Linked DNA regions of Homo sapiens. The protein of the gene in region 1 purifies or fractionates together with the protein of each later gene. This does not show direct contact. Each region holds a gene or a part of one and is shown on either strand. Other genes may lie near its edges. The genes, in order: CYB5B, FLVCR1 and CSE1L.

Evidence for each region.
Region 2: the proteins of CYB5B (region 1) and FLVCR1 purify together in Homo sapiens (affinity purification with mass spectrometry; 2 studies listed by BioGRID and IntAct, with this or other methods). This does not show direct contact.
Region 3: the proteins of CYB5B (region 1) and CSE1L purify together in Homo sapiens (affinity purification with mass spectrometry; 2 studies listed by BioGRID and IntAct, with this or other methods). This does not show direct contact.

What each region holds. Positions count from the first base shown.
Region 1 is NC_000016.10:69,462,619-69,466,764, reverse strand, and holds the end of CYB5B (cytochrome b5 type B), read right to left. Parts: 3' UTR 501-4,146; downstream 1-500. UniProt on the Homo sapiens protein: Cytochrome b5 is a membrane-bound hemoprotein functioning as an electron carrier for several membrane-bound oxygenases.
Region 2 is NC_000001.11:212,879,422-212,891,354, reverse strand, and holds part of FLVCR1 (choline/ethanolamine transporter FLVCR1), read right to left. Parts: intron 7,985-11,933; coding exon 7,917-7,984; intron 6,063-7,916; coding exon 5,959-6,062; intron 3,465-5,958; coding exon 3,354-3,464; intron 2,867-3,353; coding exon 2,761-2,866; intron 2,210-2,760; coding exon 2,098-2,209; intron 1-2,097.
Region 3 is NC_000020.11:49,081,509-49,093,441, reverse strand, and holds part of CSE1L (exportin-2), read right to left. Parts: intron 9,417-11,933; coding exon 9,280-9,416; intron 8,160-9,279; coding exon 8,056-8,159; intron 5,434-8,055; coding exon 5,336-5,433; intron 4,196-5,335; coding exon 4,045-4,195; intron 3,905-4,044; coding exon 3,696-3,904; intron 2,701-3,695; coding exon 2,603-2,700; intron 2,506-2,602; coding exon 2,420-2,505; intron 1,397-2,419; coding exon 1,315-1,396; intron 1-1,314. UniProt on the Homo sapiens protein: Export receptor for importin-alpha. Mediates importin-alpha re-export from the nucleus to the cytoplasm after import substrates (cargos) have been released into the nucleoplasm.

The DNA.
Region 1 (4,146 bases):
TATGTTTCAAAGGTAATTATAAAAACGGTTTATTTCCCTTGTTTTATTAACACAGTCACTAAACTTCAATCTCAGTGTTTAATTTTCCCCAACAGTTTAGCTATTTCCAAGAAAAACAATCATTTGAAGACTGGCATTGCAGATAACAAAACAGTATTACCTGGTACTGGCTTCTCTGTCAGTAGGTATTTTCAGTGGAAACAGAACCTCAAACCTGGCTACCCCGTTCCCACTTCACAGCCATTAAAACACAGCCTTGCTTTTTGCATTTCACGATTATCAAATGAACGATTCACTTCACGAAAAGAACAGTGAGGAGAATCCTGGAGAACCACGGAACTCCCCACCACGTTATGCTAAACACACCATTAGCACAGACACGGGAGACTGTCATGCTTCTGAAATCCTTTTCTTCCAGAACACCTGAGGATTACAAAACCAACACTTCTACTTAAAAAACACCTTTTTAAATTAAAAATAATAAGTGTAGTCGGGGCAAGAAAAGGAAAACAGTGTCTTTATTGTGTGTAGTTCTAACAAACGTTCACTGTGTGCGCATTCCAGCAGAAAGAGACAAAGATCTTTGTTCAAAATATTCTGAAAAAGGTAAACTAACTGCATTATTGAATACACAAAAGGAATGTTACCGTTACTTGTTCATAGTCAAAGGTGAAGTTAAAAAAAAAGGGAAGTTAAATAACTGAAGTAATGGTTTGCCCAAATAGCAAACGTAGGATACAAGCGTGGGCAAAGAGCAGCTACTGAAGCTCATGAGGAGGATGCTGGATATAGGGTAGGTAACTTGACAAATGCCTCTGCTTCTTTGGAACCTTCTTCCTAGATCACCCCCACAAATTCCAAACCTGGCTCTTTCAGAGCACAACAGCCAAATGTAACTAAACTCCTCATTACTTCTGTGATATTTGGCAACAGAATAAGATAGTTTAAAAAAAAATCAATTTCTTGTTGAGACAAGACATGTCTGAATCCATTTCTCTTGGGGTAGGAGGAGGTAATGAACATTAACGTTCTGCATCTCAATCTCCTAAAATGGAATTTAACCAGATAGATATCGCTTGAGATTTTAAAGCAGGAGATACCATAAGTAATGATACTCCAGGCCTGTAAAGCATTTTTCATTGTCCCACATTGCAGCTAAATGAGTATAAACTCGACAGTGTTCTGATTTCACAACATATGCATTTATGACAACTGCTAAAACAACTTTACAGGCTCAAACGATAGGTTCCAAGGGATTTTTGTTTTTGCTTAAGCAGTCTTGAAGAGATCTAAACACAAGATAAACTTTGACCCCACCACTCTGTTATCTTTACAAATGCAGAAGTCATTTGGAAACCAAAACCAATTGCTGAGTAGGGGCTGAGGAATTTTGGTGTCATTTCAAACTAGACTCTACTGAGGCAGGTTTAAACCCTGGCTCTCAGGCCAGGGGCAGTGGTACCAACACCCTCTATTTCGGTAGCATGAAACTTCTCTCACCTCCTCCTTCGTGTCCAGCAGCCATGATGTGTACAGTACAGTTTGCAGCAGCAGCAGCAGCAGCAGCTAGTCTTCCTCAGGAATAAACAACCGAACACCCCAGAGACCAGCTCCAGGTGGCACTGTCAGCCAATGGGGACTGGCTCCACTTGCTCTCCAGAGGGTTTTTCACCAGCTACCCATGTCAAGACTGTTTTGTGAATTCAAGTCTACTTCCTAAAAAAAAGGTCCTTTTGGATGGATTTGGCTAGTGTGCTATACTACTTTATTGTATAGAAAAACCTCTGCAAACTCTCACACAAGATTTAGCTTTCACCTGGCTGTTTTTGTAGGCAACAAAATAACAGTAAATGGACCCCAAAGTGATTTTCCAGATACAAAGTGACATCACATCGGCAGTAGTTCAGAAGAAGCCCTGGGTACTGGGGGATTTCATGGGTGGAAGAGACAAAGTCTAATTATCTTTTCCTCTGGCTCTCAGCAAAAAACAAGTGCAGATGTAAACAGGAAAAGAAAACCAATGTGAAGTAGAAAAACATACCTTTTGCATTGGCATTTACCTTAAAAATAACAAAAACACCAATTTTACTTAAGATGGTAGTTCTTTAACATTTCTTATAAGCCAGATGTTTTTCATTCAATTTCGGACATTGCCAACACACTTTTACAACTGATTCAAGTTATCTTCAGGCTTGGCTTTAGTTTGAATGTTCCCTTTCAAGCTCCTCAATACTCCTCTGTTCTTTACTTTTACCCCAATGTACTCCAATAATCACGCAATTTATTTATTACAGGCAATCATATACCAATCCTTCCTTGCCTTTAAATAGAGAAGCATCAAGTCATACCACTTTTGTTAAATAATAACCAAAGTTTTTTTCAATATTGTCTTAAAAGTAGCATCTTATAATGCATACAAACATTTTTCTAAAGATAAAAGCTTTACTAAACCCATATCCCTGATAATAAAAGTCAGCCAGAAATCTCCTAAAATTACTCCCAAATATATCCAAGTGTGCAAGTACAAGGTTAATATTATTTTGATGAATTCTGTATTCATTCAACTGCTAAATCACAGGATACAAGACCTGGGTTGAACTTTTTCTTAAATAGTTTACATGGGCAGTCCCTGGTTTGCTGGGCAGTTTCCTGTCTCATCAAATCCCTGGCAAGCTGGGAGGGAGGGAGGAGATGCTGAGCAGCCTCTATGGTCCTTCTTGAACCAAGCTGCTCCCTGCTGGATATGACAATGGCTCAGAAGCAGACTAGCAATTCTCAAAGGACAGGGAGAAAAATCACCACAGTTGCTGGCAGAAAACAGCCAGTGTACTATTTATTTCCTCAAGTGCTTCCATGGGGGAAAAAATAAAAGTCTAATATGCCAGAGAAATCATCATTGAACCAATAAGACACAGTAACATAATTCTAGTAACCTACTTCTCAATGAACACACATCTGAGAAAAAAACCGCCAGTATTTTATTCTCATGGAAAAACAGAACAAACCCACAAGTTGGAGTCACGGAGATAAAATACAGATGAAATGGAAAACGGTCTGTTGTCATGAACTCTCACTTTCAAATACCATTTTATATGGAAGTTACTTTACTGCGGGGCAAACAGAAGGCCATGCTGGAGTCTCTTACTTTTGGAAAATGGAGAATCAAAAATTTGCTAATCAACAAACAAAAAAGGAGGGAAACTCCTTGGTAAAGCTCTACAAACATAATTATACATTTATATTTTACCAATAAAAGATAGCTAGGGTAGAAAAAACAGATGGTTAGAAACTGGTGCCAAACCAAAGTGAAAGCTTTGGTGCCTTCTCTAAACTCCTATCCTGTTTCTTTAGAAAACACCAGTTTTCTAAAGAAAGATTACTCTGAATTCACCAGGGTTCTATCACCCCAATTCATCCCTACCTTTCCACCCCCAAGACACGAAAGGGCCATGTAGTTTTTTGTCCGGCACCACTTGGGAAGGGGCTGGGCTCAGGGGCTGGGAAGAGCTACCTGCTGCCCTAGCTTGAAAGGGAGGAGGTGGCCACACCATTCTTTGTATTTTTATCACGCACATAAAAGAACAAAAATCATTTGGCAGTTTTAAGTTTAATAGGTGCAAACCTTTACTTCAGGAATTAAACCCCTTATGATAAATAAAAGAATTAAATCAGATTTTTTTTTAATACAGATAGGGGTCTCGCTATGTTGCCCAGGCTGGTCTTGAACTCTTGGCCTCAAGCGATCTTCCCACCTTGGCCTCCCAAAGTGCCAGGATTACAGGCCTGAGCCACCACACCTAGCCCTAAATCAGAATTTTTTAAAAAAAATTTACTTAAAAGAAAAATGGAAAAATAAAACTTTCAACACTAGACTGCCGCCCTGTTAAGAATGTCTAATATGCAATCAAAGTATTGGAAAGCAGGCATTTTTACCAAAGAGCAATGTCACTATAACTTATGAACAGAAAGTTGTGAAATATAAGGGTACTCATGGAAACCAGTGAAGAGAGGAAACACCGGCAATTGTTCAACACGGAACAGTGAGCAGGTACTTTGGGAGTAAGGCTCTGAGAGATGGAAGACGCTGGTCTCAGATCTGAGGTGATGTCTGGCCAATCGTCTTGGCTCCAAGGGGGAAGAATGCAA
Region 2 (11,933 bases), on another chromosome or scaffold:
CTTCTGCCTCAGCCTCCCAGATTCAAGCAATTCTTCTGCCTCAGCCTCCCAAGTAGCTGAGATTACAGGTGTGTGCCCATAAAACTGGCTAAAGTTTTTTGTATTTTTAGTAGAGACACGGTTTCACTATGTTGGTCAGGCTGGTCTTGAACTCCTGACATCAAATGATCCACCTGTATCAGCCTCCCAAAGTGCTAGGAATACAAGTATGAGCCACCACGTCCAGCCAATAGTAATAATCTTAGATAAGATATAGTACTTGCCTAGGAATTAAGAACCAACATGGAATTACTTATGAAAGAACAATAGTTAAAGCAGTTAATGTATTACATATTTCACAGTTTTGTATGTTTTATTTTACTAACTGGACAGGGGGAAAAACTCCCTGTGATAAGATGTTTTTCTTTGAGGAAACAGAGTGCATTCACTTTCTTTTAGCTTCGTGAATGAATGCTCAGGTTCCTATCATTCATACAATTGAGTGAGCGACCTTAGGTAGTTGTGTATATCCAAAATGTCTATCACTGGTGAGATTTCATATTGAAGGTTTCACAAAGAATGATCAGGTATTCCACAAACAGTAGAAGAAATTCTGATTCACATCCTTCTGATAGATTCTCCAACTAAGTTATAACCAGATCCTCCAACTAAGTTATAACCAGATCAACGAAGCACAACCTCCCTTGGTATCTGCGGGGGATTGATTCCAAGACCCCACCTCAGATACCAAAATCCACGAATGCTCAAGGCCTTTATATGAAATGGTGTAGTATAAGCTTGTTCAACCTGTGGTCTGCAGCCCATATGTGGCCCAGGACAGTTTTGAATGTGGCCTAACACAAACTCACAAATTTTTAAAAAACATTATGAGATTTTTTGCAATTTTTTTTTTTTAGCTCATTAGCTATCATTAGTATTAGAGTATTTCATGTGTGGCCCAAGATATTTCTTGTTCCAATGTGGTCCAGAGAAGCCAAAAGATTGGACGCCCCTGGGAAGTATTTACATATAACGTACACACATCCTCCTATGTACTTAAACCATCTCTAGATTACTAATACCTAATACAATGTAAATAGCTGTTATACTATAATGTTTAGGGAATGATGACATTTTAAAAGTATGCACCTGGAAAAAGTTCTGCTTCCAAATCTATTGTACACCCATGTGCATGGGCAAACTATGGATAAAAATTCTCTGACATTCTCTTTCTCTGGAGATTGAGCACTATTTTCTTTCCTGCCCATGTCTATGATGACTATACCTAAGAAGTATAAGCACTAGCTAAGGATTCCACATACTATTTCCACCACTACCACTTGACTGCTTACCATCTCTACCACATTATAACAATAGTAACACATGTTAGGCACGTCCCAGGTGCCAGACACTAGGAACTTTTCATGAACCATTTCAATTAATCCTCACAGTAACCCTATAAAGCAGGCTTTAACACTCTATTATATAAATAAGGAAAGGAGGATTTGAGAGGTTAAGCAACGGGTCTAAAGTCACACTCCCACTGAGCAACAGAATCGGAATTTGAGGCCAGGTCTTCCCAACTCCAGGTCTTTACTACTCTTTTTTTTTTTTTTTTTTGAGACAGAGTCTCGCTGTTGCCCAAGCTAGAGTGCACTCGTGTGATCTTGGCTCACTGCAACCTCTGTCTCCTGGGTTCAAGCAATTTTCCTGCCTCAGCCTCCCAAGTAGCTGGGGCTACACGTGTGCGCCACCACAACTGGCTAATTTTAGTAGAGACGGGGTTTCGCCATGTTGGCTAGGCTGGTCTCAAACTCCTCACCTCAAGTAATCTGCCCGCCTCTGCCTCCCAAAGTGCTGGGATTACAGGCATGAGCCAACACACCCAGCCTTTACTACTCTTATTATAACAGTTTTGCTTGCTATGCAGAGTAACTGTATTGAATTTGAAATCTGCAAAATGAAGTAAGAGATTCATGTCTTTAGAAGAAAACAAATAATGTCCTGCTTTTTATCTCATTTTTTTCCCCTTGAGTTCTGTCAAGCTATTGAGAAGCAATATATATGAAAATTAACACATGACACAAGTCCTTTTGCCAGGCAAACGCCCTAATTTACCTGTTAATATGATGCCTATAAACATCCAGACACAGAGAAAAATGTTCCCTGCCTTAGGACCATAGTCTGATGTGAGCTTTCCTTGAGCCAATGTGAACAAAATTCCAAATATCTAAAATACAATAAGAAAAATCATTCGTTATTAAGTTAAATTATTTAAAGCAAGTATAAAGTTTTCACCAGAACTTTTCTTATTTTGGTTATATGATTTGGTTTCTAGAAACATTCATTGAAAAGTTGAATTGTTAAAACAAAAACCACGGTCAGGCTGGGTGCAGTGGCTCACACCCACTGTAATCCTAGCACTTTGGGAGTTGAGGTAGGCGAATTGCTTGAGCCCAGGAGTCCGAGACCAGCCTGGACAACATGGCAAAACACCATCTCTACAAAAAATAACAAAAAAAATTTAGCTGGGCATGCTGGTGTGCACCTGCAGTCCCAAAAACTCTGGAGGCAGAGGGGGGAGGATTGCTTGAGCCTAGGAGTTTGAGGCTATAGTTAGCCATGACTGCACTACTGCACTCCAGCTTGGATGGCTGAGCAAGACTCTGTCTCCAAAAAACAAAACAACAACAACAACAAATAAAACCATGGTCAAACTCATTACTCACTAGAATATCTGGTATAATAATCATCTCAGGTTTAGAGAAATCAGAGGTTTACCTGTGCAGAAGCATTAAGAAGACCAGATGAAGTACCTTCAGATTCAGGGTAAGTGATTTCAACAGCAAATTCAAAACCCAAAGGGAGGTAACCAGTCATGAAGAAGCTAGGAAAATAAATCCAGAATTACAGAAAGAACTACCAGAAAGTCACAATCACATACTGATGCAATCATTCTGCCTCTCGGGCTTATTCTAATGACCAAATAAGTGAATATTTTGAAGTTGCTATGTCAAAGTAAGGAACTATTATCATTGACCAATCAGCTCAAGGTTACAGAACTGGAAGCAACAAATACACATTTTTTTCTGAGAAAAATTTACTTCTAGTTTTATAAGTTGATTGTAACCAAATAAAGTTACACAGATTAAGTAAGGCTCATCCATTTTTTACCTATGGTATACCAAAAACCAATTTTAAATAATTTTTAATAGTTCTTAAGAATTACATGTTTATATGCATAGAATGAATCCTTTAAAGTTTAAAATATTGAAGAAACTTTGGATGAACTGAAAAAATTAAAGACCAGAGTAATAATACTTCAGAATTATAACAGCATGCTATCATTCCTCCTAAACACATCTGATACTTACCCAAGCACCCCTCCAGTAACAAACACGATGATAATATATCTAAGGTCCAATGTGAAAGTAAAGATAACCATTCCAATAAAAGACAAAATATAAACTATCAGAGTAGTCTGTCTAAAACAAAAACAACAAAGCTGTTAGTATTTTGTCTGATTCTCCTAGGAATACAAAAATCATCACTCTTACCTGTTCAGTAATGAATCTTTGTTTTTCAAAGTTCACCCCTTCTTGTCCATGGAAATATGTATCCACCAAAGCACAAATTTTAAAGCATTTTTAATTTAAGATTCAGCAGCACCAGAAAACCACACCATATCGAATGCTCAGATAGGATCCTTTTATAGGAATAAAATCATTTTTATGCCACCAAATGGGATAGTTCCCTATTCACATTTCAAGATTCAGATCAAATTCTACCTCTTCCAAATGCCTTCTGTAACGACACCAGTTTATAAGAGTCTCTCTTTCTTCCAAATTCCCTTATCATACTGGCACTATAAAACTTATGACATCTATTTTAGTTTGTTATATTATTTAACTTTTCACATGTGAATGCCTTATTTGCTCCATTTAGACCACAAACATCTTAAGAACAGGGATCACATAATGCCAGCCATAATTTTCATCTAAGAAAGATGCACACAACAGGAGTTTGGTGAATGAATGGCAGTTACCCTGAGAAGGAAGCCACAGTGGCAAAGAACACACATCTATGCCTATCAAGTTTTCTAAATGTATAACGGATGAAAGACTTAAGAAATATAATCCTTTACATATGCTCCCTTCATCTATATATCAAGTAGGTTTCACTCTAAGCTATCATTTTAAAATAATGAAGCTAAGGCAAGTGCTGTCTTAAATTATGGAAGAATATGGAGAATTTCAAGATTAGAGATACTTTTGGTAGCGTTTAGACTAATAATATCAAATATATCTTGAGCCTTGAAAGGTACACGGGACACAGTTCCATATTTCATTCATTTATTCCTTAATAGTTTCATTCATTCATTTCCAAGTACAGGGGTAAGTTTTGGCATGTTACAAAATGTGGTGATTCTTTTCACTCCCAGAGCAAAATATGCTGCCTCTGAAACCCCTTTCTTAGTCTCCCAGTTGGTATCATTCATTTTCTTTGGTATTAGCCTTTTGGTGGTTCCATATAATGTACAATTAACAGAGTATATTCTTTTTTTTTTATTTTTTTAGACAGCGTCTTGCTCTGTCACCCAGGCTGGAGACCAGTGGCACGCTATCTCAGCTCGCTGCAACCTCTGCCTCCTGGGTTCAAGCAATTCTCCTTCCTTAGCCTCCTGAGTAGCTGGGATTACAGGTGCCCACCACCACACTTGACTATTTTTTGTATTTTCAGTAGAGATGGCGTTTCACCATGTTGCCCAAGCTGGTCTCGAACTCCTGGCCTCAAGCAATCTACCCGCCTTGGCCTCCCAAAATGCTGGGATTACAGGCATAAGACATTGTGTCAAACCAGCATTTTCACATTATGCATTATATTACAGTTAAGTGGTACTGTAGTCTGGGCGTACTTTAGCCAAAAAGTTCTTACCAAAATAAAGCCTTATGCTCAACAATAATTTTTTGATTGGAAAGAACTACTTTTTTGTTTTTGTATTTAAGCCCACAACATAAAAAAAGAACAACATAGGCCAGGTGCAGTGGCTCATGCCTGTAATCCCAGCACTTTGGGAGGCTGAGGTGGGCAGATTGCCTGACCTCAGGAGTTCAAAATCAGCCTGGGCAACATGGTGAAACACTGTCTCTATCAAAAAGTCAAAAAATTAGCCGGGTGTGGTGGCGCACACCTGTGGTCACAGCTACTCAGGAGGCTGAGGTGGGAGAATCACTTGAGCCTGGAAAGCAGAAGTTGCAGTGAGCCAAGATGGTGCCACTGCACTCCAGCCTGGGTGACAGAGTGAGACCCCACCTAAAAAAAAAAAAAAAAAAGAACAAGATAAAGTCTATCAAAAGTCAAATATTTCTCAGAAATGGCTCTTTTTAGAATAGAAATAATTCCTTCGGAAGTGGTAGGTATGAGTACTGTTAGAAAGAAGGGGCTCATAAGGTATCCAAGTTCTCAGAATTGAAATAAATGTGACCAATAAAATAATACAATACATAGAGTATTGAAACACTTGTTGCTGGGCGCGGTGGCTCACGCCTGTAATCCCAGCACTTTGGGAGGTCGAGGCGGGTGGATCACAAGGTCAGGAGATCGAGACCATCCTGGCTAACAAGGTGAAACCCCGTCTCTACTAAAAATATAAAAAAATTAGCCGGACATGGTGGCGGGTGCCTGTAGTCCCAGCTACTCGGGAGGCTGAGGCAGGAAAATGGCGTGAAGCCGGGAGACAGAGGTTGCAGTGAGCCGAGATTGCGCCACTGCACTCTAGCCTGGGCGACAGAACGAGACTCCGTCTCAAAAAAAAAAAAAAAAAAGAAACACTTGTTAAGTGAAGAGAACCTACTAGTGTTTAGAATCCGTATCTTTAAGTAATAACATGTTTTAAATTTCTTGAAATAAAAAGCAAATTGTCCTTTAAAATCAAAATACCTTTGGTTATACACCATACATGTATTTACTTTCACTTACTTGTATGTTTTAGTATAATCCAGCCATAAGCCACAAAGAATAGAGCCCACCATTCCAGCTACTACTAGCGTTAGCCCAATCCTTCCAGCATTGACTTCTTCTCCCTGAAAAAAATTTGCGTAAGAAGTTGATCAAATAAATGGATTAACTAATTCAGACTCTTCACATTCCCACACCTTTTCATAGTCAATGAAAATAATTAGATAAAACTAAGCACACAGTAGGAAGATTTAGTACATGTGTCAGTGTGGGAGGGGAGGGCAGGTAAAGAATATATAAAAGCATTATATTTTAAAACCAGAAAAAAAGCCTAAAATAATAGAAGAAATAAAAAAGGTAAATTTTCCTTAATCCTCTATGGTTAGAAGTACAATGATTTTTGTTAGGATTCTTAAGTATAGATAGTCATGTGCTCCATAATTACATTTAGGTCAACTCTGAATCATATATACAGTATGATCCTGTAAGATTATAATACTGTATTTTTATTCTACCTTCTCTGTTTAGATATATTTAGATACACAATACTTACCATTGTATTACAACTGCCTACAACATTCAGTAGCATAACATGTTATACAGGTTTGTAGCCTAGGAGCAATAGGCTATACCACGTAGCCTAGGTATGTAGCAGGCTCTACCATCAGGTTTGCGTAAGTACACTCTATGATATTCACACAACAATGAAATTGCCTAGCGAATTTCTCAGAAGGTATTCCTGTCACTAAGCAAGGTATGACACTGTATAGATATCTGAAAAGGAGGTTAATCGATAGCTTTTACATAGTACAACTGCTTTATCCTTTCAAAAGCAGATACGTCAATCAAAACTTGATATTTATTTATCTATATTTATGCTGAGTTCCCTTAAAATGTTTTGTCTTTTTCCATATAACCAATCATATTATTTCCTAAAAATAAACTTAGGTATTGTCACAGGGATAGTAACTTCTGCTTTCCATATTGTGTGTGTGTGTATTTTGTTTTGTTTCGTTTTTTTGAGATGGAGTCTCACTCTGTCACTAGGCTGGAGTACAGTGGCGCTATCTTGGCTGGGATTACAGGTGTGAGCCACGGCGCCCAGCCTGTTTTTTTTTTAAATGGGGATTCACTCTTATTGCCCAGGATGGAATACAATGGCACGATCTCGGCTCACCGCCACCTCCACCTCCCAGGCTCAAGTGTTTCTCCTGCCTCAGCCTCCCGAATAGCTGGAATTACAGGCATGCGCCACCATGCCCAGCTAATTTTGTATTTTTGGTAGAGACAGGGTTTCTCCATGTCGGTCAGGCTGGTCTCGACCTCAGGTGATCCACCCGCCTCGGCCTTCCAAAGTGCTGGGATTACAGGCGTGAGCCACTATGCCTGGCCATACTATGTGCTTTATAAACTGGATTAAATATGTTAAATTAAAATGATGGGAGGCCATTGTTTTGGAGTGAGCTCCCACAGTAGGCCCAACAGACCAGACCACATAGAATGGTGTCACTAGTGCTAGGTGTCACATAATCAAACTGAACTTTAAAATGGGCCACTTTTCCAAAAAAAAAAAAAAAAGGAGATTCATAGCAACCTATCAGATGGGGCCCAGTCCCCTTTGTTTTACTCCTATAAGGAAAGTAACTTTGTAGCAACCAATCTGCTCTTTGTTCCTTGTTTCTGCTTTCTTCAGCCTTTTTCTGCCTATAAAGCCCATCTCCTCTGCTCAGCTCATCAGTACCTTTCTAAATCTTTAGATGGGATGCTGTCCAATAAACGAATTGATAATAAAAGCCAATTAGATATATAAAGTTGTGGAAATTTCATTTTTTAACAAATATATTCTCAATTAAAACAAATGTAAATATTTGATAGCAACAATGTCATAACCCTTAATCTCATGACCCTGCTAACGACAATTATATTGCTAAAGAAAAATTTTTGGCCAGGCATGCAATCTGATATAAGCAGAAGCTTACCTCATAATATGTCAATATCATTTGATTTAATAACGTTGAGACTGAATAAAAGGCACCAGTCATGATACCTACAATAATAAATAAAGATGATATTAAGTCATGATACCTACAATAATAAAGAGAATACTAAAAGTGTGTCATTTACCAGTTCATGAAGTGACATGGAATATTATGTGACAATTGTGGAAATACATTTCTTAACACAGTTGATAAAGGAAATTAAAAACCATTGTCATTCCCTTTCAGAACCTGGACTAATGAATTTAACACCTAACTGTACTAAAGATGTAATAGCAGAACTCTGTCCTAATACTATTATTATTTAGATTGAGATATACTGACCATAAATCATACCCCCACATGCAACACATATATGGCAACCAGTCAAGCAATGGATTGTTTACTGAATTCCTACAATGTACTACTACAGCCAACAAATGTGCAAAGCCTAACAGAAACTGTGCTTCAGAGATCTTACCTTTTTGTATCAAAGACTTACTGAAAATTCATAAGACAAAATCAGTTAATACTTTTTTTTTTGAGATGGAGCCTTGCTCTGTTGCCCAGGCTGGAGAGTAGTGGTGCAATCTCAGCTCACTACAACCTCCGTCTCCTGGGTTCAAGCAATTCTACTGCCTCGCCTCCCAAAGGATACTTTAGAAGTGAACAATAAAAACAACTGGCTATGAGAAGCACAGGATAGGTTTGAATCCTGATGTCTCCTAGCATGTATTGTATGAATTTAGGTAAGACTCTTAACCTAAATTAAGCTAAAACTTAAGTTTATTATTTATCTATTATTAAATATTTTAAGAATATAAAATAGCATAGAGAATACAACAAATATCCTCATATATCACCCGGATTTGGCAAACATTAACATTTTTCCATCTTTGCTTCAGATTCATTTTTCAGACTTTTCCCAATCCTATTCTTTACCAAAGTCAAGCCCTAGCTTGAGCTTGGTGCTTATCATTTTATATATTACCATATATGCATATTCATAAACAATTAGAAGTATTCTGTAAGTATATAAATATTATTTGTATCCATCTGCAACTTGCTCTTGTTACACTATATTGAGATGGTTTTGAGATGTATCCATGTTGATATTTTTTGTTGTAGTTCATTAGTTTTCTGTTGTACAGTATTCTATTATGTTAATATACTTCAATTTAATTATCTCGTCCTGTCAATAGACACTTAAGGGTTTCTTTTTTAGTTTTTCACTGTTTAAAACAAGACTGCAATGAGTATTATGTTTTTGTTCTTATACATAAGAGCTTCTCTAAGTATATATCTAGAGTAGACCTTCTACTTTCTAGATATAAGCAATTTGCTCTTCAAAGTAGTTGTTATCCGTTCATACTACCAGCAGAGTTCCTACTGCTCCACATCCTTGCCAAATTTGTTTTCACCAGATTTTAAATTATTTTGCCAATGTGAATGTGTGTGATATTACATCTTACTCTGGCTTTGATTTGTATTTCCTTGATTACTGTTAAGGCTGAATATCACATAAGAACAATACACACAGACACAGACACACAAATGTCTTCTGGTGTCCTTGGATTGTTTGCTCTTTCTGATTTGTAGGAGTTATTTTTAACTAATACTAATCCTTTGTTGGTTATATGCATTGCAGACAATTTTCTCATAGTCTAAGTCCTGTCTTTTCCCTTTTTCAATAATGTCTTCCTAGAAAAGATTATTTTAATATAATCATATTTATCAATATACTTCTTTAGGGTTTATGTTTTTTGCATTAAGAAATTCTTGGCTGGGCGCAGTGGCTCACGCGTGTAATCCCAACACTTTGGGAGGCTGAGGCAGGTGGATCACGAGGTCAGGAGTTCGACACCAGTCTGGCCAAGGAGTTCGTGACCAGTCTGGCCAACATGGTGAAACCCCGTCTCTACTAAAAATACAAAAATTAGCCAGGCGCAGTGGTGTGCGCCTGTAGTCCCAGCTACTGGGGAGGTTGAGGCAGGAGAATTGCTTGAATCCGGGAGGTGGAGGTTGCAGTGAGCCGAGATTGTGCCACTGCACTCCAGCCTGGGTGACAGAGCGAGACTCTGTCTCAAAAAAAAAGAAATTCGACAGAGTGAGACTCTGTCTCAAAAAAAAAAAAAAAAAAGACAAAGAAATTCTTTGGGAATACTAAAGATGGTCTCCTATATTTGTTCCTAAAACTTTAAAGTTCTTATTTTTACTCTTTGGTCTCTACTATAATTCATTTTTATGCATGGTATGATGTAGAGTTCTAATTTTAGTTTATTTTTCCCATATGGACAATCAATTATCCTGGGACAATTTACCAAACAGTTCCTCTTCTGCAAAACCTCAAGTTTTCCTATATGTATAATGTACTAGTTATTAGAGCAGTTTGCAAATATTCTAGTTTTTATTTTTCTAGGCATGGCAACATGACTTTAAATATAAGCAAAGGTGACATTCCCTGTTTTCTGCCTTAGTAATCATGGAAGCATTTACAGAGATGTCAGGCTGTATCCTTGAGTAACTTTGATGAGCAGAAACTAGCTGTCAATTCACACTGGACATGCAGTTTTAGCAAGAAATAAACTTTTCATGTTTCAGGCCACTGAAGTTTTTTAGCAGGACTTCTTTTTTTTTTTTTTTTTTAATAAAGAGTCTCACTCTGTTGCTCAGGATGGAGTGAAATAGCAGTTTCGGCTCACTGCAACCTCCATCTGCCAGGCTCAAGTGATTCTCCTGCCTCAGCCTCCTGAGTAGCTGGGATTACAGGTGCCCACCAACACACCTGGCTAATTTTTGTATTTTTATTAGAGACCGGGTTTCACCATGTTGGCCACACTGGTCTTGAATTCCTGACCTCAGGTGATCTGCCTGCCTTGTCCTACCAAAGTGCTGGAATTACAGGCATGTGCCACTGCACCTGGCCAGCAGGATTAATATAAGCTAGCCTAGGTCAAGTGACACCCAAGGTAGGTCTCTGGGCTCTCTATTCTGTTCCAGTGATCTGATGTCTATCCCTTACTCATGGCATCTTAATTACCATAGATTTATAAATTTTGATAACTAAGAATGAGTCCCTCACCATGTTCTTCATCAAAATTATCTTTGCTGTTCTTGGCCCTTACTTCACTCACAGGAATTTTTACAGTTGGTTTGTTCCATTACAATCCCTGTTTAAACTGGCGATTAAAGGATGAGACCTATAGCTCGTCTAAAAACTTGTTAACAACACTTATCAAAAACACCTGGGTAACTGGCCTTTGTTATTCAACTTCCCACTGAGCTCAAGAATGCACGTGGACCACGCTGGGTTAGCCTGCGGAAGATGAGGATAACAAATGAGGCCTGTGCTCAGGCCTGAGTGTACTCTACTGCACTGCACCCTATGGTGATTTTGAATCTAATACATACTGAAATAAGGATAGCAAAAATTTGGATGAAGAATTATAACAGCCAAAAAAAAAAAATACTATGTTATCTGAACCTAGAGTATGGTATCTAAGTTTCAGAGAGCAAACAGCAACAGTTGGGATAGTAAGGAATCATCTTTTCTCCAAATAGTGCAACCTCAAAAAAAAAAAATTTGGCCGGGTGTGGTGGCTCATGCCTGTAATCCCAGCACTTTGGGAGGCCAAGGTGGATGGATCACATGAGGTCAGGAGTTTGAGACCAGCCTGGGCAACATGGCAAAACCCCATTTCTACTAAAAATACAAAAAATTAGCTGGGCATAGTAGTGCGTCCCTGTAGTCTCAACTACTCCGGAGCCAGAGGCATAAGAATTGCTTGAACCCAGGAGGTGAAGGCTGCAGTGAGCAGAGATCACACCACTACACTCCAGCTTGGTCAACAGAGTCTATAAAGACATCTATTTATATTATAGACTTTATTACCGATAATTTTTTTCCAAAAAAAATTTTATCTTAGTCCATTTGGGTCCTGAGTTTGGGACACTGCATATATGATCCCGAAGCTCTATTCTAGAAGTATTATTCCTTATCCAGAGTATCCCACAAGCAAG
Region 3 (11,933 bases), on another chromosome or scaffold:
AATGGCTATTTAAAATAATTCGGCCAATCATTCTATGTTGTTGCAAACATGCTAGAAGTGAAGTTTTCCGTAATTCTAAATGATGCAAAATCCTCAGTTTATGCGTTAATAGAACCAATTCTTTGAAGTGGAAATATGGCTCAAAGGGTATGGCAATTCTAATGCTCTGGATAAAAAGTGCATACATTTTGCTCTCTAGAAAGATCAGGCTAATTCAGGCTCCCACTAGCAGTGCATGAGATTTCCTCAAAATCCCCTACTGCCGGAAGCCATGTTTTCTGGTCTCCTTTCCAGAGTAATTCATTTTTTAGTCAATGTAGAATTTTTGAGACATAACTGAGGTACAGGGATCTAACTGTCCCCGAAGAAATTTTCCCTAAGAGTTGTTCTTTATCTTATCGTTATAATTGTTTTATTCCCTACTAATGGGAAATGCCACCTAAATACATTCTTTGCATATATACCAGATAAGTCAAAAACAAAGTTAATTTATTGGTCCTAAGTATTTCTCATTTGAAAAATTCTGCTGTGTTTGCATTAGCAGCACATATACTAAAATTGGAACGATATGGATTAGCACGATTTTTTAAAAAAGGGGGAAGGAAAATTCTGGTTTTTTTTTTTAATTATACTTTAAGTTCTAGGGTACATGTGCACAACGTGCAGGTTTGTTACATATGTATACATGTGCCAAGTTGGTTTACTGCACCCATTAACTCGTCATTTACATTAGGTATTTCTGCTAATGCTATCCCTCCCTCTGCCCTCCCTTCCCCTGCCCCCCATCCCACGACAGGCCCCAGAGTGTGATGTTCCCCGCCCTGTGTCCAAGTGTTCTCATTGTTCAATTCCCACCTATGAGTGAGAACATGTGGTGTTTTCTGCTGTTAGTTTTAATAAGGCAGGCTCCTGGAGACAACACTGACCATTTAACATAATATAGAACACTGGCTGTGGAGAATGCCAGTGTGTAGAGTAGATGGTCCTCTAATCTAGAGGATTAGAACAATGATTCCAGGGTGTTTTTTCTTTTTTTGAGATGGAGTCTCACTATATTGCCCAGGCTGGTCTCAAACTCCTGAGCTAAATCCGCCCTCCTCAGCCTCTCAGAGTGTGGGATTACGGGCGTGAGCCACCATGCTGGGCCAGGATTACTTTTTCTTTACTCCCAATACCTAAGAATATTTTGAAAACCATAGACACTATCTCCATACCAAGAACCACATCATCATCTATAAGACAGAGATACTGATTTGTACTAAAAAAAAAGTCAAAACATTTTCTTCCTTTAAAAAATAATAAAAACAAACTTACTTTGGTTGTATACCATCAAATATTTCTTGTAGTGCTAGTGCCCCATATTTTATGCAATACAAATTAATAAAGACTAAAAAACCTGTTGAAAGAAGATGCAGAATATCAGCATAGAGAACTCACGCACTAAACTGGTAACTGATAAGTCTGCAAAATAAACCTATGCTTAATCATTAACATCCAAAGGCTGTGGCATCAATACCTGCCTTCTAGTAAATAGAAAACTTGTCTTTCTGTCATAGACCTTTACATGCTGTCTCTCTTTGATTTATATTTCCTTATAATATTCTCTCTACTGAAAAAATGTTTTGGTATCCAACCATAAACCAACCTCTGGAACACAATATGACTAACACTAACTTAATGTTTGGAGAACACAAACATCTTAAAATATTTTCTTTTTTCTTGTGAGAAGGTTTCACTCTATCACCTAGGCTGGGTGCAGGAGCGTGATCACAGCTCACGCAGCCTTAACTTCCCAGGGTCAAGTGATCCTCCCACCTCAGCCTCCTGAGTAGCTGGGGCTACAGGCACACACCACCATGCTTGGCTGTTTTGTAGAGACAGGGTCTTACCATGTTGCCCAGGCTGGTCGTTAACTCCTGGACTCAAGGAATACTCCCACTTTCACCTCCCAAAGTGCTGGGATTACAGATGAGAGCCACTGCACCAGGCCCTTACAATATTTTCTTTTTTTTTTTTGAGACAGGGTCTCACTCTGTCACCTAGGATGGAGTGCAGTGGGTGTAATCTTGGCTCACTGCAGCCTCAACCTCTGGGACTTAGGTGATGCTCCTACTTCAGCCTCCCAAGCAGCTGCGACTACAGGCACATGCCACCATGCCTGGCTAATTTTGTTGTACTTTTCGTAGGGACAGGGTTTCGCCATGTTGCCCAGGCTGGTCTTGAACTCCTGAGCTCAAGCGATCGGCCTCCCTTGGCCACCCAAAGTGCTGCGATTACAGGCATGAACCTCCACACGTGGCCAAGTATTTTTTGCATAAAGTTTAAAACGGATAAAAAATGTATCTGCAACCATAAAGTCTAAGGGTTTTAGCTACCTTCTTTCATTACTTCTGTAGAACATCCAGATGATTTTACTTACTCTTGATAAACTTGGTTGTTTTGGAATTCTGAAGTCTCTGGAATAGCAGAATGAAGATTTGTTTCCTATATTGGTCAACTGATTCACTAAAGAATTAAAAAAAATCAACAATATAAATTTAGGACTTTTCTGAGCACCTAACAAAATTTCTAAATAAATGCACAAAGTTCTAGTCATACTCACGGAGGCATGTGCTCTATTATACTGTTTAGAAGATAAAAACCTTGGTGGTCATTTGCTTTGGATGCAATCAGCTTCTGAAAGACACCTAGTAACCCAGGCTGTTAAGAAATGAGATCCAACAGAAAATGGTTAACAGGAATAATTATTCGAAAAGTTAAACATGATATATGTCTTAAAACAGAGTTCATACTGTAATAATCTATCCTTTTCTCTTTAATTATTTCTGAAACATATGGGGAACAATTCCTCCCGCGTAGCCATTAAAGTAATTTTTTTTTTCTTTGAGACGGAGTTTCACTCTTGTTGCCCAGGCTAGAGTGCAATGGGGCGATCTTGGCTCACTGCAACCTCTGCTTCCCAGGTTCAAGCGATTCTCCTGCCTCAGCCTTCTGAGTAGCTGGGATTACAGGCACGTGCCACCACACCCACCTAATTTTTATTTTTAGTAGAGACGGGGTTTCGCCATGTTGGCCAGGCTGGTCTTGAACTCCTGACCTCAGGTGATCTGCCCACCTCGGCCTCCCAAAGTGCTGAGATTACAGGTGTGAGCCACCACGCCCGACCAAAGTTAAGTTCTTAAAATCAACCTGTTTGGCTCTGTTTTTAAAATTTTCCATCATGGATATAAATAACTAAAGGATACAGAATTCTGATAAAACATACCATAACATTTTCTACTAATTATTTCCGTTATTATTATTATTATTTTTTTTAAGAGACAGGGTCTAGCTCTGTTGCCCAGGATGGAGTGCAATGGTGAGATCATGGCTCACTGCAGCCTTAAACTCCTGGGCTCAAGCGACCCTCTCACCTTAGCCTCCCAAGTAGATGGGACCACAGGCATGCTCCACTGTGTCCAACTAATTAAAAAGCTTTTTTTTCCTTTGTAGAGATAGATCTCACCACGTTGCCTAGGCTGGTCTTAAACTCCTCGGCTCAAGGGATCCTCCCACTAGAGGCTCCCAAAGTGGTGGGCTTGAGCCACTGCCCCCAGCCTTAAATTTATTTTAAATAAAAAAATTTCAAACATCTGCCATCCCCAGTTTCTCCAAGCTACTTTATAAAATTACAGTTATATCAAAACCTGACGCACAATTTTGTCAGCTGCAGCACTTGCTATTGTGTTTGAACCGCGTTCTAAGAATGCTTGAAGAAGCCTCACTAGAGCAGGAATATTTCCTGTTCTTTCCCAAAGCACTGGCTGAAGGAGATGAGGAAATAAGGCCATATAGGAAGACGGGATGTCATTTTTGTGTGTTTCCAGAAGCAAAGACATCACTTGAAAGACGTATGGAATAAATTCTGTTGATAAAAGTAAAAACAGAGCTGTGAGCTTCAGAAGGAATGACTGACACAAAAGGCCCACATCGCTTAGGTGGGCTGCATTTTATAGCCATGTTAATTTTATTCCATTACAAAGAAAATAATTTCCGTTAACTTACCTTGCACATCATTTTGTAAGATTTCAGTAAACACCAAAAACAAAGCCTCCTCAAAATTTACAACAGCAGCAGGGTTAGCTTTGCAAGTTATTCTTATGGATAAACATATTGCTTCAAACATGTAGTGATTAAAGTGAGGTTTGCTTGGGTTCTGAAATTAAAAAAAAAAAACCTAATTATGCTAATAATCCACACCTAACCTTTATAAAACACATTTAAAATAGAGGCCATCTTATTTTTTAAAAATCAAAATTAAGAAAAAAACACCAATTATACCCTAGTGCTTGTTCATTTGAATTTTTTTTTAAATGGCCCAAAGTCCACCATGAAAAAAATACTTCAGAGTTACAGAGTTGCTTATACAAACCTCAGATCCCAGAGCTGTAACTTGTCTTAAGCCCACGTGCCCTCGCAGAGAAGAAATACTAAGTCCTAGTAATGCCACTAGCCTTAACTTCTGTGGGCCTCAATGTCTATGTCTACTTACTGATAATCCCCCAAATGAGTAGTTTTTTATGTTCTTTTTAAGCAACAAAACCCCATTTTTCTTTAAACAAGTTCTTGGAAGGCTACTAGCATACAAATCTAACTCAATCAGAACATGAGATGGTAATACATATGGGAGGCGGAGACTTGGGTTCCCTCCCCGCTCCATCCCTCAAGGCCCTAAGTAGTCCAAAGACCCTTAGCCCTAACTCAGTTGAATAATAATCACTCTGTTCTCCAAAATCCCTCCAACACTTCCTATGAATTGATCTAATTCTCATAAGATCAAGAATAGCATCTAAAAAGGAATTCTGTCAGCCTTAAACGGATTTATTTTCTAAAATTTAGTGTTAATAAACATGAATCTAAGTATCTGTAAAATTTTGATCAGAGTGAACTTTCCTTTTGAGAAATAAGAGTAAGGAAGAAAAGACAACACAAAGGATTTTAATCATCATTTCATAGAAGTCCAGACAGCCTCTTTTATATCCATTTAGTGCAAAGCCTACTTAACTCCATTTAAGGTAATTTTGGATCATCTGCACTTTCTTTTTCTACAATAAACATGTTACTTTTGTAATGAGAATGAAAATGTATTCAAGCTTCTAGCACACACTTAAAGGTGACTGCTATTACGTCTCCAATCTAACAGCATGCCCACACTTTCAGAAAAGTCCATTAGTGGCTGGTCAGGAAGAATTCACAGACCTTCTCTAAAGCTTCACGTAATGCCAAAGAGTTCTGAGGCCCAAACAGTTTGGAGCAAATAAAAAAGGAACCCCACTTTCAAAATTGGCTCTATTACCTTACTAACAGCTAATAGCTTCTGTGTAAGCTGAGTGATGAGAGTAGGGATGTAGGGGATTATGGCTTCTTGTAGGAGAGAAAAACTTCTCATGATAGCTGTAAAATACAAAAACAGCAAAAACAAATAGAGTTTAGTTAAACTTCAGAATAAGAGAGCGACTGGGGGGAAAAAAGCGCACTAATTCATCAACTAAATTTTAAGATGCTTAGACAACCCCGAGATAGCTCTCTACATTTAAAAATAATCTAAATTTCCCTTCCTTTTAAAATTAGGACGGGTTGGCAACAAAATTTAGCTGGGAAATACTGAGTATTTCTAGAAGGCTCAAGGTTTAAAAAATAATTAAAGAGGTTGACTAAGAGGAAGAAACAGTGAGCTGACATGAATGGAGCAGGTGAGTCTGAGAGAGAACTGTTTGGGGTCTCTTTCTCTTAGAAATCAGTAGCAGAGGCCATGCTTGGTGGCTCACACCTGTAACCCCAGCACTTTGGGAGGCCGAGGCTGGCGGATCACTTGAGGCTAGAGTCTGAGACCAACCTGGCTAACATGGCAAAACCCATCTCCATTAAAAATAGCAAAATTAGCCAGGTATGTGGTGCACGTCTGTAGTCCCAGCTACTCGGGAGGCTGAGGCTTGAGAATCGCTTGAACCTGGGAAGTGGAGGTTGCAGTGAGCCAAGATCATGCCACTGCACTCCAGCCTGGGAGACAGAGCGAGACTCCCTCTCTCTCTCAAAAAAAAAAAAAAAAAAGAAAAAGAAAAAGAAACCAGCATCAGAAAATGTTTAGCCCTAGCCTAAAGGAAACATGATCACAAACTACAGGAAACTGAAGAGAAAACTGCCTATCCACCTCCCTCAAAAAAAGAGATTAGGAGCCTAAAAAAATTCTAAAAATACATGTAAAGCCACAGAGTCCAAATTGCAAAAATATTGCTCAAAAGACCATAAATGGGTTAAAAATAGGAAGCATGGGAGAAAAATAAATTTGTCAGCTAAAAATGTATAAAAGCTCTCTTTCCACAAATAACATTTCTAAAATAAATGTTTACTAAGCAGAGCCCCAAATACATGCCAAGCATAAAGGACAGAAAGCTATCTGCTCTTGCCTCCTGAACTCTGCACATCATGTTTCCTCCTCTACTGGAGTCAAAGACTCATCCACCCTTCAACAGATTGCTACCTATCCCTCACACCTAACGTTCGGTTAGGTCATATCTCAGCTTAGAGATCACTTCCTAGAGAAAATCCTTCCCTGACCTGGGTTAAAAGGGCTAGAGGATAAATTGGTGCTCCTCCACTAGGCTGGCGCAGAATTATTTCATTCACTCATACAACCGTACAGAGAAGGTATTACATACTGTGTATTCTTACATACCCTAAAAACACAGTAATGAAGATTACAGACTAGTTAGCCGCTCTCATAGAAATGGACATTAAGGCTGGGCGCAGTGGCTCACACCTGTAATCCCAGCACTTTGGGAGGCTGAGGCGGGTGGATCACCTGAGGTCGGGAGTTCAAGACCAGCCTGACCAACATGCAGAAACCCTGTCTCTACTAAAAATACAAAATTAGCTGGGCATGGTAGCACACGCCTGTAATCCTAGCTACTCGGGAGGCTGAGGCAGGCGAATCGCTTGAACCCAGGAGAGTGAGGCTGCAGTGAGCTGAGATTGTGCCATTGCACTCCAGCCTGGGCAACAAGAGTGAAACTCCATCTCAAAAAAAAAAAAAAAAAAAAAAAGGACATTAAACAACAATAATTACACAATTATACATCATTGTTGGGGGAAGGATAGTGTTGGAAACATACACCCAGATACACACATCCACTCTAGGATTTCTGATCCAGACTGAAAAGATCAGGGAGTTTCTCTGAAAAGTGCTTCCTACAACCCAATGTGCTAGGCTTTTGGGATGCAACAGTGAAAAACACTGAGACTATCTCTAAATTCAGAGCTGGCACCAGGACACTCAACTAATGTAGTGCCTGGTGGATGGATACACCAGCCTGTGGATGGATACAGCTGCCTGTGTCCTTGGCAGTACGTAAGAAGACACGATTTGTGCAGAGTCTACCACAGGCACCCACATTTCACCCCTACCTAGGTGAGCATGCAGTTAATAAACGTTGCATGATCTCTTCTTTGCCTTAAAGAAACTCAATCTAGGGAAGGAAAAAAGGGCTTTGCTACATTTTCTGTAATGAGAAGTTCCATATCAAATTAAGATTACTGTTGGCCAGGTGCAGTGGCCTCTAATCCCAGCACTTTGGGAGGCTGAGGCGGGCAGATATTTGAGGTCAGGAGTTTGAGACCAGCCTGGCCAATATGGCAAAACCCTGTCTCTACTAAAAATACAAAAATTAACCGGGCATGGTGGAGTGCACCTGTAATCCCAGTTACTCGGGAGGCTGAGGCAGGAGAATCGCTTGAACCCAGGAGGGAGAGGTGGCAGTGAGCTGAGATCAAGCCACTGCACTTCAGCCTGGGCAACAGAGCAAGGCTCCATCTCAAAAAAAAAAAAAAAAAAAAAAAAAAATTATTGTTAGTAGTAAACAAGATAATGTTTTTCATTTTGAAATATCTAAACTAACTTACTACTTGGTAAACATTATCTGGTTCATAGACTGTATAACCTGAAGTATAACTCAGAGTGCTCACCCTTACAATCTGAGATTGGATACCTGTAGTCTGCACACCAGGGAAACAGCCTACCTTTCATAATATATTCATTTTCTGAAGAGCCAGGAAGTGTGAGAGCTTTGAAAAGGTTTGTTAGCAGAATCTCAACAAACGGTGCGATTTCTGCAGCTGTAAAGCTATAGATGAAAAAACAGCTTTCAGTCACTACCAACTCTTGAGCTTGTCACTGCAGATTACCCTTGGCAACCACTATGTCACCCTTCTCAGCATAAAACTGAGCCATCTCCCACCACTGACAATTGATAGACAGTTTAGGAAAATAATTTTTTTACATGTGCTCATGTTAGGCTCCTAAGAAGGCACATCGAGAACCAAACACAACTGAACCAAAAAGCCAGCTAAACCCAACAACATCTGAAGTTGAAACAGTTGTCCCTGGTTTATATCTATTACCACTGAGAAAGAACTCAGAATCTCAGGGGACTCTGTCATTTATTTTGTTTTTGGAGGTGGAGCCAAGATTCAGAACTGTTTTCTGCATAAATTCTGGGCCTGAAGATAGGTACTGGCTTGACTCACCTCAAAGGATGTCCTTTCTACCCTTAATTGGCCACTGAGAGTATCTGTACTTCAAGTTCTTGATGAAGGAAAGAACCTAGAACTGTTTTCCATCTCTTACCCAAAGCTCATTTCAAGAAATAATACTGTTGAATAGTGGCCTGAAAGACATGCAGACCATCCATTCCTCTACATTTCATCCTGGTTCAGGCCAGAAGACCTATTTTCTTGGTCCCCAGTGAATTACTTTCATTCGGTTAGGTCATATCTCAGAAATAAGTGACCTTACGCAAATAGCCACATGAAAATAACTGTTACATGATTGTTGCTGAGAACACTACTACTACTATTGTACAGTATTCTCTGCTTTAACTTTTATCTCATAGACCCTGTGAAAATTTTAACTTCCCAAGTTTCCCTCTTTGCCCTGGCTGCTAAGAGACTCCAAATAAAATTTGGAGTTTCTTGGACTACTATATAGGATCCTTTGACACACATTTCTGTTTATTAACTTTATCTCAGTTACTTTCCTTGGCTCCAGTTTATTAAATTGTATTGTCATAATGCACCTATTTTAGTAAGCAGCCTCAAATGCTTTTAGAATGAAACAGAGTATAAAGGAATAGAAAGCAGACATTTGTTTTCCCACTAGTGAAATTATGAAAACATTCAGATATCTTTGACCAGCACAGTACAGCCCCTACCCCAGGCTAAAAAACTTTAGAATAAAATACTCACAGAGTGGCATTGTTAGGCCCTCGCATAGTAAAGAGCCGTTCAAGAGCATGAGCTGCGTAAGTATGAACAACAATACTTTCAGCTTGAAGATGATTAATCAAGAGAGGAATCGAGACTAAAAGATGTTCTTTTGGCACCTAAAAAACACAATAATATACATGCTCTAAATGCAATGATTCCATATTTGAGTAAAAGACAATTGGAAGAGAAGGACCTGTTGATTTAAAGAACAATTTGCTATTTTTAAGCTCTGTTATAATAGGAGATGCTGCTGCCCAGAAACCAAAACTTTCACTTGCACATAATGGTTCAATTTCCACTTTCTAAATTCTCCTTTTCAGAGCACAAAACTATGAGGATAACATCTTGCAGATAAATCAACATACCATAAAATAATAATATCACAGAGAAGGAGACTAAGATTTCACCAAACTTAAGAATCATCACTAGCAGATATTTCTTGAAAAAGTTATTTAACCTTTTTGTGTCTCATTTTTTGTTCTCTTCCCACCCCCAAAAAGCAACAAATACGAGAACAATCTTCATTAAAAACCTCTAAATTTGAAACATTCATTAGTCTAAACTAGAAAAGCCTCCTGGGTGTGGTGGTTCATTCCTGTCTATAATCCCAATACTTCAGGAAGCCAAGGTAGAACAATTGCTTAAGCCCAGGAGCTCAAGACCAGCCTGGGCAACATAGTGAGACCTCATCTCTATTAAGAAAAAATTAAATAAAAAATTAGCTGGGCATGGTAGTGAATTCCTGTAGTCCCAGCAACTTGAGAGGCTGAGGTAGCTGGATCGCTTTAGGCACTAAATGAATAACTCAAAAATGATGTTAGGCCGGGCGCAGTGGCGGCTCACGCCTGTAATCCCAGCACTTTGGGAGGCCGAGGTGGGTAGATCACGAGGTCATGAGATCAAGACCATCCTGGCTAACATGGTGAAACCTCTACTAAAAATACAAAAAATTAGCCAGACGTGGTGGCATGCGCCTGTAGTCCCAGCTACTCGGGAGGCTGAGGCAGAAGAATGGCTTCAACCCAGGAGGCGGAGGTTGCAGTGAGCTGAGACTGCACCACTGCACTCCAGCGTGGGCAACAGAGCAAGACTCCATCTCAGAAAAAAAAAAGAAAAAAGAAAAAAAAAAAGATGTTAAGGACAAACAGTCATGATGTAGGTGGGTACGGTGGAGCATGCCCGTAATCCCATCAACTAGGGAGGCTAAGGCAGGAGGATCGCTTGAGTCCAGAATTTCCTGGCTGAAGTAAGCTATGATCGCACCACTGCACTCCAGCCTGGGCAACAGAGCAAGACCTCATTCTCAAAATAAAACAGAAAAGGCCAGGCACGGTGGCTCATGCCTGTAATCCCAGCACTTTGGGAGGCCAAGGCGGGCGGATCACAACGTCAGGAGATCGAGACCATCCTGGCTAACACAGTGAAACCCCGTCTCTACTAAAAAATACAAAAAAAATTAGCCGGGCATGGTGGCGGTAGCCTGTAGTCCCAGCTATCGCGAGGCTGAGGCAGGAGAATGGCATGAACCCAGGAGGTGAAGCTTGCAGTGAGCCAAGATCGTGCCACTGCATGACTTGATTGTGTTACTGCACTGAGCGACAGAGCGAAGACTCCGTCTCAAAACAAACAAGTAACAAAAAACAGAAAAATGAAACCCATAGTATGATGTCATTTATACAAACAAAAATTTAAAACCTAGGCCAGGCGTGGTGAATCACGACTGTAATCCCAGCACTTTGGGAGGCCAAGGCGGGTGGATCACCTGAGGTCAGGAGTTCAAGACCAGCCTGGCCAAGATGGCAAAACCCTGTCTCTACCAAAAAATTGCTGGGCGTGGTGGTGGGCACCTGCAGTCCCAGCTACTTGGGAGGCTGAGGCAGGAGAATGGCTTGAACCTGGGTAACAGAGCAAGACTCCATCTAAAAAAAAATTAAAACCTACAGCATACTAAATAATTTCTGCAGAAACATAAACACATAGTGAAAGTATAAAAAAAGCATGGCTTGAACCTGGGCAACAGAGCAAGACTCCATCTAAAAAAAAAAAATTAAAACCTACATAATACTAAATAATTTTTGCAGAAACATAAATGCGTAGTGAAAGCGTAAGAAAAGCACTTCCATGGGTGTCAAATACACCGAATTCACTACAGTAATTACCTATAGAGAGAAAGGGACTGACTGGGCAGGGAGCACCTGGAATACCTCCATTGTATATGTATGTATACATAAATATGGCCTGGAGTTTTAAGATTTGTGAGGATTATTTCAGTAATCATCATATTGTTTTATTCCTGCTTGTGTGTTTAAAATATTTTGCAAGATGGCACCATTGTTACTGGGCAAAGACATCAAAGAAATAAGATGAGTGCAAGTTTTGATTTTTTTCTCAGTACAATTAAAGTGACCTAGGCATTCAGAATCAGAAGAAAAACTACACGTTCTCTAAAAATTAAGACCAATAATCAGATAGAAAAATGGGCAAAAGAAGATGAATTCACAGTTCACCGAAAAGAAATGAAAATGGACCCTTCAAGTGGAAAGATGCTTAACTGAACTCAAAATAAAACAAACGTAAATTAAAACTGCAATGAGATACCATTTAAGATTGGCAAAATTCCAACATACTCTAAC